Linked DNA regions of Homo sapiens: region 1 is linked to region 2. A link means that fine-mapping ties the variant in region 2 to the expression of a gene that starts in the linked region. Tissue or cell type: whole blood. Region 2 holds a variant in brackets; the other region holds the start of a gene. All regions are shown on one strand. Distances are between the middles of the regions.

Evidence for each region. PIP is the estimated chance that this variant, and not a neighbour inherited with it, causes the effect.
Region 1: OMG starts here. The variant in region 2 is fine-mapped to the expression of OMG in whole blood (TOPMed, PIP above 0.99).

What each region holds. Positions count from the first base shown.
Region 1 is chr17:31,293,351-31,301,459 of GRCh38, forward strand. OMG (oligodendrocyte myelin glycoprotein) reads right to left here and starts at 3,889. Exons shown (of 2, transcript NM_002544.5): 1 at 3,806-3,889; 2 at 1,297-2,987. The coding sequence starts at 2,981. The coding sequence ends at 1,659. The region is part of intron 36 of NF1 (neurofibromin 1); the gene reads left to right.
Region 2 is chr17:31,096,296-31,104,404 of GRCh38, forward strand. The region is part of intron 1 of NF1 (neurofibromin 1); the gene reads left to right. Among named protein-coding and RNA genes, the nearest start is that of MIR4733HG, 4.9 kb to the left of the region's middle. RefSeq lists a silencer at 7,368-7,549. The variant G/A (reference allele first, on the strand shown) is at 4,733.

The DNA.
Region 1 (8,109 bases), 200 kb after region 2:
ATAGCTTCCGTATATAGAGAGGTAATGCATTTTAAAATCATTTAGGGGACTTTTTCAAATAATCCTGTTTCTTCATGGTGAGATTCCCTGACACAGTGAGCCAATCAGGTTTGCTAAGGCAGAAAATGTTCGAGAGCCACTGTACTAGACAGCATGAAAGATGACTGTTTTGTTGAAGCTTAATGGTAATTTTTCCATAATCCTGGTCCTTAAAAAGCAAAAAAAAGAACACATTAGAGTGTTGTTACTTTTCTCTCTCTCAATAGAAATGTTCCTAAACCAGCAAAGGAGGCTATCTGAATTTTTAAAAGTTTTTACGAAGGAACATAAAAATTCCTTTCTCTATCTTTTCCCACCTCTAGAAATGCTTGAAATGAGATTCTGCCTTACGTCTCACAAATTAAATACCACATTTGTGTCTCACCCATCTCAGTTATGCTGTCTTGCATTTTAATCAATCCTGTTTCAGGACTTCTTTTGCTGCCTTGTGGCTGTTTCTTATGTTTGTCACTAATTCATAAGTTGGCTAACTTTTATATTTGTAGAGAATTTCTCAGTGATTTTCTTCTAGTTGGAGTTCCAGTGTGGTTTGATTTGGAGTGTCAAGATCTCTGTCCCATGCCTAGCCTTAGTCCTCAGTCTGTTTTACTGGGTTCACCACCTGGTTGTAGTACCAAATGCCCTTTTCCCTTTCCCTCTCTCCTTCCTCACTTCCTCAGTACTGCCCAAGTTCGTCAGACCCAATGATTTTATTCTTAAGCTAATCTTATTTTTAATTTAGGTAATTCTGATTTCTGATTTGTAAAAGATAAATTTTCTTCTCCTTCATGTAGTAGGATTTTAATTTTGTAAATATTTAAATTCTCCATTAATGGTGTGTTAAATCTGCACTAAAACTGCTTCTTTACATGTTTTTAAATTTTTTCATTATGTTTTTAACACTTTTCTTACATGCAAAAAACACAACCGTTAAACTTTTCTTATTAAAATGCAAAGCCTAGTGTCTTCTAGCTTTTTGAAGAGCTTTTGTCCATTATATAATCTGTCAAGTAGCCAAGAGTTCCTCAGAAGCAGGACATCATTTAGATTTAAAACAATTATGGCTTGTCTGTAAAATAATGTTGTAGCATAACCATTCATGGGATGGCAGCTACGATTTTACTTCAGTAAAATATCCTTGGATACTACCGCCATTTTATTTACCTTAAAGATTTTACCAAGGTACCCTAGAACAAAAATGGTGAGGTCATTTTGATTCTGCTAAAGTTGGTATGACTGGAAAGCCAAATGACACAGTTATGAGCATAGACCTTTTATTTTCCAGATGTTTGACAGTGTAAACATACATAAAATACATATTAAAGTTTAGATGCTTTATATTTTGTGCAATAAATTGAAGCCTTAAAACATTTCATTTTTTTTATAAAAGAAACTCATTAGTTTACTTAATTAAGACAGTAAAATAGCAGCAAGTACCAAGACATTGTGCATTTCTTTTATTTAAGACAAGTTACTTCATTTACATCAGAGTTAGAAATGTTAAGACTGGCTTTCTTGAATACTTAAATATAGCTCGAATCACTGGTTAGATATGGACATATTTTCCCAACTGTACATCAGGGAGGAGTGCTTTCATTAGTTTCAGAAAATGCAGACCCTCAGACAGCCAGCATGACCACAACATTGAGCAATAAGAGAAATGAAGCATTTACTTTCCAAGCATTTGCCACAGAAGGTAATGGAGTCTTTACATTTGTGGTTGTCTCTTCCCTCCATAAGTTAAGGGTTGTGCTTTGTTGAGGCATTTCAGAGAAATTATTTGGCATGCCACTAGTGATACTTAGGGTCATGGGTGTTGGGGATGATTTTGTTGAGCTAGTGAGGCTTGTGTTTGTGACCATTCCATCTTGGAGATGAATAGTTAGAGTTGCAGCTGCTGCTTCATGTGAATTGATAGTCTCTGTGGATGTATCTTCTGGATAGGGCACAAAAGCCTTATCAGTGCTAGTAAAGGTGGTGTCTTTGCTTAGAGTGGCACCAAACGTTGTTTCCTTTGTTCGATATTGTTTGGGTATTTTGGTCACTTTGGGTTGAGTTACCACACTCAGAGAGTTAATGGTGTCCACTGTCTGCATCCCACTTACAGTGAATAAGCTTGAGGTAAATCCAGAAGGTGTGGGATACATGTTATGTTCCTTTAAAGATGATATTTGGGTAGAACATGGAGTCCCTATCACATGGGCTTTTGTTTCCATCATCCACTTCAGTAAGTAAGTAATGTTTTGTTTGTGGTCACATGACCACCTGTTATTGTAAAGGGTTATCTCTTGCAACTGAAAGAGTTGGTCAAAAGATTGGTCTGGAATGAATGTGAACTTATTGTTGTGCAGGTAAAGATGTGTGAGATTTGTCAGGTTTATTAATGTACCTGGAAGAATTTGTGTCAAAGAATTATTAGACAGGTCCACGATATGTAGTTTGGAGGGCATGTTGGTTGGAACTGTCCAAAGTTTGTTACTACTGAGGTTGAGAACCTCGAGACTTCTTAGTGTATTTTTAATGAGGACAACCTTTTCCAGCATGTTCTTAGAAACATCCAGATATTTAAGATTCCACTGATAAGCAGTATCAGATTTGTCAAGAAGTTTAATGTTGTTGTTAGCAGCAGACATGTTCCACAGAGACCGAGGTAAGTGAGCAGGCAGGCTTTCAAGCCTGTTGTTTGAAATGTCCAGGGTCCTCAGATTGGTATATTGGGTTAACTGGTTATGCAGATCAGTAAAGTGGTTATAAGACAGGTTTAAATGTATAATATTCTCTTGCAGTCCAGATGGTAATGTAGACAAGTTTCTGCCTGAACAGTCCACATGCCTGTGCCTCTCTGTGCATATACATTGGAGAGGACAAATGCATAAAATACCAGGTGTGAGAAACAGAAGGATGAACAGGCAGAGAGACATTTTCAATATCTGATATTCCATCAAAGCCTAGAAACAAACAGATACACCCTTCTTTTAATATGCAAATACAGTTTAGGCATCTGCATGGGTCAGTTAGCATTAGGCAAAATTTTCAATAAACCTCGTTGTTGTCGAGTCCTTTTATAATTGTTCCAGTGATTAAACTAACAAAGCTCCCCTTCATTTATAGTCCAAATGCTTAATCCTTCAATTGGGCTATGTGGTAGAGAGAGACTCTCTCCCTACTCTCTCCTGCATTTTCTCCTTTATTTTCTCTCTCCCTCCCCCCTTTTCTAACCATATTCTTTCTTATTTATCTTTCTAGAGCCTTAATATGATAAAATAGCATTCTTTGCAAATAAATAGTTGCAGTTGTAGGCTATTACTATTTTTGATGATATGCTTTCTTACTCAGATGAGAAAAAATGGCTGTCGTGTCTTTTTTTTTTAATCTCTGCAGTAATGTAATTCAATGTGTGTATATAGGGTAGATTTTATTTAGATATTAAAGCAGTTCTTCGAAATTTTATCTGTATGTTTTTAGGATAAATATATCTTTGTAAAAAGCACTTGAAAAATCCAGACCAACACAGTACCTATAAACCTCACATTTTATAAAGTGATTTTTTTCTGTATATTTCAGTGCCCATTTTAAAGGAAAACAATATGTATATTTACAGAGTGACTGAATGTATAAAAAATATCCCTCAACTGACACTGCAGCAAATTTCTGGTGCATGCACTTGCTATTGAATATATATTTAATCCTAACGTTGACTTTTTCTTAAAAGAAAAAGGAAAAAGATTCCAAAGTCAGCCTTTTACTGATTTAAATAACATCTTACCGTGGTGTCGTCTTCAACATCAGCATCTCATTTTCTCTGGGAAACTTAAAGGTCGTCTTGTTCTGTAGAGTCGGAACTGTTTCTGGCTGTGGGCTGTGCTTGCCTGCTCAGCTGCATTGTGTTGCTGTGAGCTGAAGCTCTGCAACCACCTGATCAGTACCACATAGGAGGACTGCAGAGCTGTCGCTGGTGCTGACTCAAATTTATGGCAAGAGGTGCACACGCAACAAAATGGACAATTTTTTAAAAAATTTGTGGCATCAAGCGTACCTATATATCTGATTTGCTATAGGATGGGATACCTTATGCATGAGAGTTGGCCCTTACTCCTTTCTATGTATTTGTCTGAGATTGGGTTCCATATTTTAACATTTGCCTCATTAAGAATCTGTGAATTTTTAAAATACCTCTACTCTTTATCCTTTTTACATGTTGAAAATAAATTTGACCTTCCTCATGGATAGTTTTCTATGATATTAGTCCCACTATTTTTTAACTCCTGCCTTTTTATATTCCTTTCTAAAATTGTATAATTTTCATGTCACTTTTTTAATATTATAAAAAATCTGTTTTATGACTTTTATGTCTTCCCCCAACATGGTGATTATTATGTTTAATCAGCTTTTCAAATTTATCAACCACTTAAGTGTTCCGTCTTCCCTTTTAGGATGTATAGAAGTACTGAAATACGATTATTTTTTCTTTATCTTTCTGATACAATGATCATTTGACCAAGGCTACACACAAGCCAGGATACATTTGGAAATTAGCATCTTATACTTCAGATTATCAGTTCCTATGTAAAATAAACATGTTTTATTTTATATATTTGGAGTTAAAGTTTTTTTTCTTTATGCAACCTTGGGTGGTAAGTGGATATGAGTATTGTTTTTTCCAAAGACATTTTTGGTGCTGTATGAATGACCATTTATTTGATTTTATGTTTTAAGAATAGCAGTATCAATTTAGGTGATTTCAGAGTGTTGCACATTTCATCTTTCTGGGAAAGTAGTTTATAGTTTTAAAATTACATGAAATGATATAAAAGGAAAATTTTTCATCATGAGTTTTATAAAGTGAGATCAGATTTATGATAAATTTTGCTCCACTCTTCAGTGGACTGCTTGTGTAAATCTGTTAAAACACAAATCTGATTTCCAGAATGGCAAGTTTAAAGAAAGCAAATAAAGTTACGGTATTTTCGTTACCAAGTGGCACCATTTAAAAACGAGTAATATTTAGCATGTTATGTGTAAGGAAAGTCTCTTTATGCCTTGTTACTAAATCGTTTGTTTTTCTCTAAATTATATTAGCATTATTTAGATTATACCACAAATAGAATTTGTTGTATTAAAATTTGAAGTTTATTTTCTTACAAGAGAAACTATACTCTAGGAGCCACCTTTTGTATAAAACTAATGTTCCTCGAAAAGTATCTGCATTTTAAGAGTCCGCAACATAGAAGTTTATTGTTGATTGGGTGCTTTATTGCCACTTTACTTTGAGGGTTCAGTTGAACTCTCAATTGGATTCTTACTGTGGATTTAGGAAACCAGCCATCAATCATAGTGCTTAAAATAATGTGTTAAAAATACTACATTCAGCAATATTGTGGAAATAGGGAATGCATTGACATTTAGAGTTCTATTTAAGCTCATATATACACTGCTGCACTTCTAAAGATGTGACTGAGGGTCAATTTACCGACCACTTAAATCTCTTAATTTTAGGAAACCTCATTAAGTCAGTGTAGAAGTAGAGTTATGCATTTTCATTACACTTAACAGTACTTTTGTTTGAAAGAAAAGACATGTTACTTCATTAATGGATTCAAATGAATTTGGGTTTAGGCTGTATCAAGTTTAGTTTCTGTTGTATATAATAGAAAATTCCAGTGCAATAGTAGTGGCAATGTTTCTCATTTCAAGTTTGGGACATACCAAATTGCTTCATATTATTCAAAGATTATTGTAAAATTCTCAAAAAGAAAAAGGGAGATCATTTCAATATATTTGAATTCTAACAATCTCTTACACTGGGTGCAGCACACCAGCATGGCACATGTATACATATGTAACTAACCTGCACGTTGTGCACATGTACCCTAAAACTTAAAGTATAATAAAAATAAATAAATAAATAAAAGAAATTCTCATGAAATAAAATAATACTGTATTACTGTTACTCAAAAAAAATATTTTTTAGAGGCATAAGTATGTGTTACAACTTATTTTAAATATTATTCAGACTCATTACATTTTCTATTAGGCTGTCTAGGTCAGTAATGATAGTTAGGCAACTTTTACATTCTAGATTAAGCAGTAAATTAATTTACGTATTCTTTTGTGTCCTAGGATATATTACCCCAACATTGTGAAAGGTATCACAAAGCATCTGCCAAGGAATAGCTATCCCACGCTAATCAGTGGTTTCAGTTTTCCATTATTATAGGTAACATTTGCTATGCTTGAGAGTCAGATATTGTTTATTTTTGGTAATATGGTTGGCTATTTAGACTGATTTTCCTGCTGAATACAACTGAGAGTACTCAATAAAGTACTTTAAAAGCATGAAAGAAATAACAACATAGAAATTACCAAGTCAAAATCCAAATGAATCAGTTTCTTTGCCCACCTCCCTACTCCTTTTTTTCTTTATGCCACTGGCTTGTTGCCAAAACTCAGTCAATTATTTCCTAAAATGTCTCTCATCTTGGAGTTTTCTCTTTGACTCTTTGGGAAGATTTAATTTGTTCTTCTGTCCCCCATATTTTCTATAAGTGATTCCTCATATCATTGACATAATTGCTCATTTGCATCATCTCACAATAATTTCAAAATAATACCAGTATTGATTGCTACAATTAGATTATAGACTACCGAATAAAGTTTAAAATTTGTTTGTAGCTCTGCTTGCTTTATTTTACTAAAAGTGTATAGTAAATTCTGTGTTCTAATGCAATGTGAAATAATTCTTTTCTGTGTATTTTTATATCACCAACTTGATATAAACTTTGTTTCAGTTTTCAGCTTTTCAGGATCACAAGTCAAAATTATATATATAACAATGTATATTCAGATAAATCTTGCTTCTCTGTCTTTTCCATCCTATTTCCTTCCTTCTGCTATTAGTAACTGTTTTTATTAGTTTTTCGTTGTATCATTAACATTTCTTTTTGAAAACCTAAAAAAAATGTAAGCATATGTATGGTATGTTCTTATCCCCCCTTCTAATATAAAAGGTGACATATATACATACTGTTAGATAACTTGTTCTTCTTTTCTTACTGTATCTTGAGTATCACTCCATATCAGTATATAGGTATCTGTATGATTCACTGTTTGATCCATAGTACTCCATTTGGGAATGTACCATGGCTTATTCAACCAGTCCCCTATTGGTGGACATCTGGGTTTTTCAGACTTTTGCTGTTACGAATAATGCCACAGTGAATACCCTTGTACCTAAATAATTTTATATGTTTGCCAGTAAATCTTTGAAAAAGATTCCTAGAAGTAGGATTGCTGGGTAAAAGGGTAAATGCATTTGGAATTTTTCCAGACATTACTAAATTCCTCTCCATTGATTATACCATTTTGCAGTCCCACCAACAGTGTATCATGGTGTCGAGTTCTATACAGCCTCACTGTATACTTTGTTGTTGAACTTTGGGATTTATTGTCCATCTGATAGGCAAGTATCTCCATCTAATTTTAAATGCATCTCTGTAATTATGAGGGGGAGTATATGTCTTTACATATGTTTAAAGACCATTTAAATGTTTTCTCCTGTAACTGTCTTTTTAATGTTTTGCACTATTAAAAGTTGTGTTTTGGGTCTTCCCCTTCCTGCCCCATATTAGGAGCATTTTAAATTTTAGAGGTATTAGCACTTTGTCTTGATTTAAGTTTTAATTTTTTTTTCCAGTTTGCCATTTGTCTTTTGGCTTTATTATGGTGAGGTGTGTGTGTCTGTGTGTAATGCGCACTTGCATGTGTGTGATATTTAAAAGTTTCATATAATTTGATTTCCCTTTTTATTGCCTCTGGATTTTGAGTCTCAGCTAGGAAGGTTTTTTCCCGCTTCCAGATTATAAAGGAATTTACTCATATTTTCTTCTATTACTTGTATAATTTCATGGTTTATATTTAGAACTCTGGTCCTTGGTGTTCCAATATAGTGTGAAGTATGGATCAAATTTTTTCTTTTTTCCAGATGTCTATCCAATTGTTCCAATGCTTGTTTCCACTGATTTGATATTTATTTCTGGACTTTTTCTTCTGTTCCATTGATCTGTTTGTTTA
Region 2 (8,109 bases):
TCTGCTAGTGTTTGTGGTTGTTTTTGACTCTCTCCTGGTTGACAAGAGAACTTTCATTGAGAATATTTGGGATGAAAAAAAAGTTTTGTAGCTTGAGGAGGTGACTTTTTATCGCCTGAGTTTCACACAATAAATCCTGGGGCTGATTAGAATAAATGCACACATAGCCTTTTGTCAGTGGAAATTGGTTTAACTTTGTGTTGCTGTAGGTAGTTGGGGATGGTTTAAGGGATGCTTTCTGCAGCTGTGGGTGCAGTGGGCTTCCTGTGATGGGGGAATTGTTTAAGATTGAGTCAACCTATTTTGTTTACTGGATATAATGGTAAAACATTATGGGAGCTGAAGGGGTGGGGGAAGAGCTCTTCTGTTATTTGATGCATAAACATTTCTTTACGGGACTCAGCGTTTCAGACCTACCTGGAAAATATCTTGGAATAGACAGAGGAAGTTGAGAAGAAGCTATGTAGATAAAATAGAGTTATGAAGCTGTCAGAGACTTGAAGGAATTGTTTTATCCATTCGTATGCTTCCAGACCCAAAGGCATCTAAACTAAACTACTAATCCATCTGAAGTATAATGTTACTGCATATAAAAGATTACATTATTGATAGAGCGTTAGATTTAAAACTTGGTAGAAAAGACTCTGTAATTTTAAGAAAGGATTTAAAAGGCACATAGAAGACTTCCAAAGCTGAACCTTGTGGACAGCAGAATCTGGATGTAGGAAATTGAAGGATCCACGCCGCAATTCTCCTTAAATTTTAAAAATTAAAAATTTTTTTCAGTTTTTTCTTAATTTTATTTTTTTACTTCTTACCTGTTCATCTCTAGGCTTATTTGCCATATTGGAAAAAGATACTTAAGAGAGGAATGATTTTGGGCTGGGCGCGGTGGCTCACGCCTGTAATCCCAGCACTTTGGGATGCCAAGGCAGGTGGATCACCTGAGGTCAGGAGTTTGAGACCAGCCTGACCAACATGGAGAAACCTCGTCTCTACTAAAAATACAAAAATTAGCTGGGCATGGTGGCGGGCGCCTGTAATCCCAGCTACTCGGGAGGCTGAGGCAGGAGAATTGCTTGAATCCGGGAGGTGGAGGTTGCAGTGAGCTGAGATCACACCACTGCACTCTAGCCTGGGCGACAGAGCGAGACTCTTGTCTCCAAAAAAAAAAAAAAAAAAAAAGGAGGAATGATTTTGATTATATACCCAGTAAAGCAAGAAAGTGTTTCTCCTTCTGTCCCTAGCTTTAAAAGACCTTAAGGCTTCGTTGTTTGTTATGCATATTGTGGAATCAAACTCACCACCATCTGTTAAAAATTAAGGACATTAGTTTTTAAAACAGCATTTTTCTGCATTCCTTATGTTGTAATTAAGAGAAAGATATATAGGAGAGATTATTCCTCACTTTTTTTTTTTGAGACAAGGTCTTGCTCTGTCGCCCACGCTGGAGTGCAGTAGCTTGATGTCGGTTCATTGCAACCCCTGCTTCCCACATTCACGTGATTCTCCTGCTTCAGTCTCCCAAGTAGCTGGGATTACAGGTGTGCACCATCGTGCCTGGCTAATTTTTGTATTTTTAGTAGAGACGGGGGTTTCACCATGTTGGTCAGGCTGGTCTTGAACTCCTGACCTCAGGTGATCTGCCCCCCACCCCCTGCTCGGCCTCCCGAAGTGCTGGGATTACAGGCATGAGCCACTGTGCCTGGCCTATTCCTCACATTTTTCTCTTAGAAAGTTAAAGTCTCTGACCTTGAGATACAAAAATGTAAGGGTTTTCAGTGTTTAACATAAGGTACTTATATATATTATATATAGTATATATATAAAATAAATTAATATATTAATTTATTATATAAGTGATAAATGTTTAATTCAAATTAGAGTTCACCTTACGGTTGAAAATGTCTTTTAGTCAGAAAACTGAGGCATGGGAAGGTTAAGTGACATAGATCTAATAAGAGCTTCAGTATGAAAAGTAGTGAATGCTTGACCATCAGGGAGATACTTTTCCTAAGTATCCCATAAAATTTGTTCTAATCCATTAAATATATTTAGAAGACTTTATTTTATTTTTTTTATTTTTGAGACGGAGTTTCATGATTCTTGCCTAGGCTGGAGTGCAATGATGCGACCTTGGCTTACTGCAACCTCTGCCTCCTGGGTTCAAGTGATTCTCCTGCCTCAGCCTCCCAAGTGGCTGGGATTACAGGCGCCTGCCACCACTCCTGGATAACATTTGTTATTTTTAGTAGAGTGCTGAGATTACAGGCGTGAGCCATCGCTTACATTTTTATTGAGGGGAGAAAAAGCCCTGCATGTACTGAGAGATAGTTGTATAAGAATCTTAAGAGTTGGCCGGGCGCGGCGGCTCACGCCTGTGATCCCAGCACTTTGGGAGGCCGAGGCGGGCCGATCATGAGGTCAGGAGATCGAGACCATCCTGGCTAACACAGTGAAACCCCATCTCTACTAAAAATACAAAAATTAGCTGGGTGTGGTGGTGGGTGCCTGTAGTCCCAGCTACTTGGGAGGCTGAGGCAGGAGAATGGCCTGAACCTGGGAGGTGGAGCTTGCGGTGAGCCGAGATTGCGCCACTGCACTCCAGCCTGGGTGACAGAGCGAGACTCCATCTCAGAAAAAAAAAAAAAAAAAAAGAATCTTAATAGTTTCAACTGTTTATAAAACTTTTGAATTTTGGATTATATTATCTGTACTTTGCTTTACTGGGCCCAGGGGGAGTTAAGCTTTCCTTCTTATTACAGCTAAGAGTTTGCCTGTTGGACCACTTAACGCCCCCAGGGAGCATGTGCATGTCTAAAGATGGCAACTCTGTTTATGATTGCTGTTTTGGTTGGATTTCTAATATTCGGTGTGATTAAAGCAGAAATGCATTTCTAGCCACTGCTGATTACAGACATATTGCACTCTGATGGGTATCGCTTAGCAACTTAGTGCAGTAGACTCAGTTAAAAGAAGTGGATGTGTGCCATATTGACATTTTGAGCTCACATTCTTGTGGGTAATATAAAATTCCTTAACCTGATAATATTGCAGCTAAACCTAGTATTTAGGGTCTAAGTTGAATGAGTATTACCAATTTTAGAAGTAATCACCTCCTTGGTTAGGGAAATGACAGTTGCACAGGTGGACAGCCAGAAAGCTGAATGTTATCAGTTAAATCTTACATCTCTCCTTAACCTGCCTTCGTGGTGCCAAATAGCAAGTTTCTAATTGAAACTGACAAATTGTAGGTGTGTAGCTTTTTTTTTTTTTTTTTTGAGACAGAGTTTCGCTCTTGTCTCCTAGGCTGGAGTGCAATGGGGAGATCTCAGCATACTGCAACCTCTGCCTCCTGGGTTCAAGCCATTCTCCTGCCTCAGCCTCCCAAGTAGCTGGGATTACAGGCGCCCACCACCACGCCTGCCTAATTTTTGTATTTTTAGTAGAGACGGGGGTTTCACCGTGTTGGCCAGGCTGGTCTCCAACTCCTGGCTTCAGGTGATCCACCTGCCTTGGCCTCCCAAAGTGCTGGGATTACAGGCGTGAGCCACCACGCCCGGCCATGTGTAGCTTTTAATTGTGGTTCATTAACCCAGTTTCTAAGCAAATTAGAACCTTCTGTGTATCTCCCCTAGTTCTGTATGCCCCACTGGTTCCTGTAGAGCTTTATTTCTGAAGGGAAGTATGGGAAAACTATGGATATTTGAACTAAAAAAAAAAAAAAAAGAATTAAAAAGAACTCCATCCCAAAATGATTTGTTGTAAATATGTTCATTTAAAGCAATTATATTTTCCATATCTGATCAAGCAAAAGTAGTACATAAAAGCCAAAAAACCCAATTTAAAGAATATGTTATGGAATAAACTCTGATTTTAGAGGTTGTAGTAGCATATTTGTTGTTCTCATACATTGAGTGTTCATCTGAATGTACGTTGAATATGCGGTGAGTGATTCACAGTATAAAATGATTGGCAAGTATCTTCGAAATTACAAACCACATACTGATTAGACAAATAGATTTGCAAAACTGAAGCTTTTTGGATTTAAAAAATATCTCCTAGCCTCATTCTTCAAGCCTGGTGTGTAATTTTTATAAGGCCTTATAGTAGTTGAAAATGAGTACTCTTTTATGGTGACGAATTCTTTATGGTGAGTGAGAAATAATGCTTATTCTTCCAATTTTAGTATATGTGGTGCTGAATCGAGCACAATAATGCTTATTCTTTGCTTCGGAATTTTTTAATTTATTATTATTGTTATTTTAAATTTTTATTTATTTATTTATTTTGAGATGGAGTCTCACTCTGTCGCCCAGGCTGGAGTGCAGTGGCGCGATCTCAGCTCACTGCAACGTCTGCCTCCTGGGTTCAAGCGATTCTCCTGCCTCAGCCTCCCAAGTAGCTGGGACTACAGGCGCATGCCACCACGCCCAGCTAATTTTGTATTTTTAGTAGAGACAGGGTTTCACCGTGCTAGCCAGGATGGGTCTGAATTTCTTGATGTCGTGATCCACCTGCCTTGACTTCCCAAAGTGCTGGGATTACAGGCATGAGCCACCGTGCCCGGCCCGGAATTCATCCTTTAGAAAGATTTCTTCCAGCTGTTCCTCAGTTCTCTGCACTCCCTTACACTTTCCACCTTATCTGTCTGGGAACTAATTTAGTCTTTATGTTGGCTGCTTTCTTTTCACTTTTCAGGCTAAGATTTCCTTTCTCTTGGAAATCAGAC[G/A]TTTACTTGGTCCTGCAGCTCTCTCTCTGTGGACCAGTCTTTTTTGTTGTTGTTGTTGCCAGATACTCACCGCCTCTACTGTTTATCCACCCATTTCCTTTATAACTCTGAAAAGTAGCTCCTGCCTCTGCTTGATTGCTGTTTTCTTGAAAGTGATTACTTCTGGCAAAACATAGTGGTCATTGCTTAGTTGTAATGCCACTGTGATGTTCCACTCCCCCCGGAAACCAATCTCTTCCAGTTCCCAAGACACAATACTTTTCTACTGAATTGGAGTTCCTTAGCGGGGGTCTTAGTTTTGTTCTGCTATTCAGTGCCTTTGTCCCTATCCTAGCCATTAGCTTTCCTATAGATCCTTGATTTCCTCATCTGTTGAAAAAGAAATGGCTAGAAAATCTTTTAGATTCTTTCAAGTTTAAATATTCGATGATTTTAATATTCTAACAGCATGTCTCTGTGACCCAGCAGTCTATTGGGAGCTGACCCCACTTGATTTACCAAACTCTTTCCCATTATGCCTCTGCATGCACCTATGTTCCAGGCAGGTCACCTCAGTCTCTTCTGTGTGTATCATGCTTCTTCCCACTTCTTGGCCTTTATTTCTGCCAGTCTCTGCCTGAATGCTTTAATTCCTCCTTTGTGCTTTTCTAATTCCTGTCCATCCTTCAATGTTCAGCTCAGATTTCATTTTTTTTTTTTCCCCATGAGGTTGTTTCAGACTAAACTCTGCTATCTCACTTCTTGGTATCCTTGTTACCTGGAGTTTTACAGAACCACACAGTAAGTTTTCTTCCTTTAGGAGGATTGTTTGAACACAGCTTGGCTTTGTTTTCTTTTTTTCTTGTCTTTTTATCAAATGGAGTGCATACTTTCTGAAAAGCAAAGAACGCTATTTGAATTCTCTTCTAGTCACCCCAGTGCCCAGCACAGTCTTAAACACACAGAACATTGATGGAATGTTTTTCATATGATTCCTGGTTGAAGGGTAGACTGGCTAAATAAAAAAAGTGGTACTTTTGGCTTTGTTTTACTGAATTTTACTTCCATGTTTGCAATAGCCTAGGTCTGATAAGTGATATTTTAACTAGGAATGAGTAAGAAAATTAGCATAAAGAAGGAATTTATACATATTTATATTTCCTCCCATAGAGCAAACATGTTTTTTGAATCAGGTTTCAGATCTGATCAACTACTTTTGTAATTTTGGATTTGTCACTTACTGTTAGGATATTTTGCAATGGTGTGATAGAATATGAATGTGAAGCACTTTGAAAAGTCTAAAATTTTTCTAATATAAGATTTATATGTTTTCTTTATAGCTTATTATTATTATTATTTTTTGTGTGTGTGACAGAGTCTTGCTCTGTCACTCAGGCTAGAGTGCAGTGTAGCTTATTACTGATTATTGTGTTTTCATTAAATAAGGGAGAGTAGGCCAGGTGCGGTAGCTGATGCTTGTAATCCCAGCACTTTGGGAGGCCCATGTGGGAGGACTGCTTGAGGCCTTGAATTCAAGACCAGGCTGTGCAACATAGTGAGATGCTGTCTCTAAAAAAAATTAGTTGGGTGTGGTGGCATGTGCCTGTAGTCGCAGCTACTCAGGAGGCTGAGGCAGGAAGATCACTTGAACCCAGGAGTTCAAGCATACAGTGAGCCATGATTGTGCCACTGTACTCCAGCTTCGGTGACAGAGTGAGACCCTGTCTTCCAAAAAAAAAAAAAGAGAGCGTGACTAGTCTCTGGATATTCCTTTGTATGTACCTTGGCCAATATATACCTTACTTTAGTATCCATTGACAAGTTCTCTTTTTTCTTCTTCTTCATTTTTTTTTTTTTGAGATAGAGTCTCGCTCTATTGCCCAGGTTGGAGTGCAGTGGCACGATCTCAGCTCACTGCAAGCTCCACCTTCTGGGTTCAAGCGATTCTCCTGCCTCAGCCTCCCAAGTAGCTGGCATTACAGGCACGTACTACCACACCTGGCTAATTTTTGTATTTTTAAAAGAGACAAGGGTTCGCCATGTTAGCTGGTCTCAAACTACTGACCTCAAACAATCCACCTGCCTCAGCCTCCCAAAGTGCTGGGATTATAGGCATAAGCTGTGGTGCTGGTCTAATATTGTTACATTTTATTTTAAATGTTCCTGTTTTTTGCCCTACTCTTTTTATTTGACTTTTTAACCATTAGGAAATTAGATTCTTTTCTCAAATCTGCTTTATTATTATTATTATTTTGAGACAAGTTCTCGCTTTCTCGCCTAGGCTGGAGTGTAGTGGTACAATTTTGGCTCACTGCAACCTCTGCCTCCCGGGTTCAAGTGATTCTCCTGCCTCAGCCTCCCAAGTAGCTGGGATTACAGGCGTGTGCCACCACACCCAGCTAATTTTTTTGTATTTTTAGTAGAGGCAGGGTTTTACCATGTTGGCTAGGCTGGTCTTGAACTCCTGACCTGAGGTGATCCGCCCGCTTCAGCCTCCCAAAGTGCTGGGATCACAGGCTTGAACCACCGTGCCTGGCCCTATTTTTGTATTTTTACTATAGACGGGGTTTTGCCATGTTGGCCAGGCTGGCCTCAAACACCTGCCTCAGCCTCCCAAAGTGCTGGGATTACAGATGCAAGCCACTGCACCTGGCCTTAAGTCTGCTTTTAAAAAATGTTTTGGCTGGGTGCGGTGGCTCATGCCTATAATTCAAGCTTTTTGGGGGGCTGAGGTGGGAGGATCACTTGGGCCTCAGAGTTTGAGACCAGCCTGGGCAACAGAGTGAGACCCCATCTCTACAAAAAGTAAAAAAAACAAATAAAAAAAAAATCAGCCAGTGTGCATTGGTTGAAAGTAAAGAAAAGAAAAAAAACAGACAAATTAGCCAAGTGTGGTAGTATATGCTACTTGGGAGGCTGAGTCAGGATTGCTTGAGCCCAGGAAATTAAGGCTGCAGTGAGGCATGATTGCACCACTGCACTCTGGCCTGGGTGAGACCCTGTCTCAAAAAAAATTTTTTTTTTTAATATGGAGAAAGTATTTTTGTTTTTCGTTTTTTATTTGGGTACCGGCCACTGCACCCAACCAAACATTTTGTCCTTAAACAAAAGTTTAAGTCATATAATACAGTAGTAAGAATGCCTTATTTTTTACATCTTTGTTCTTTAAATTACTCAGATTGCTATGGGGCATTTTTGTTGTAGCTTTCAAATTTGGTATTCTGGGGTTCTATGTAGACTCTATATTGTTGCATTCTAACGACATACTTTTAAGGATAAGCAGCGTATTAATTAAAAATGTGTTTTCCACTTGTGTTCCTTAGGTCTGCGTATATTTTGGAGGTGTGTGTGTATATAAGTCAAGGGACAGGAGGTATCGGAAGGCTCTAAAGGAAGTT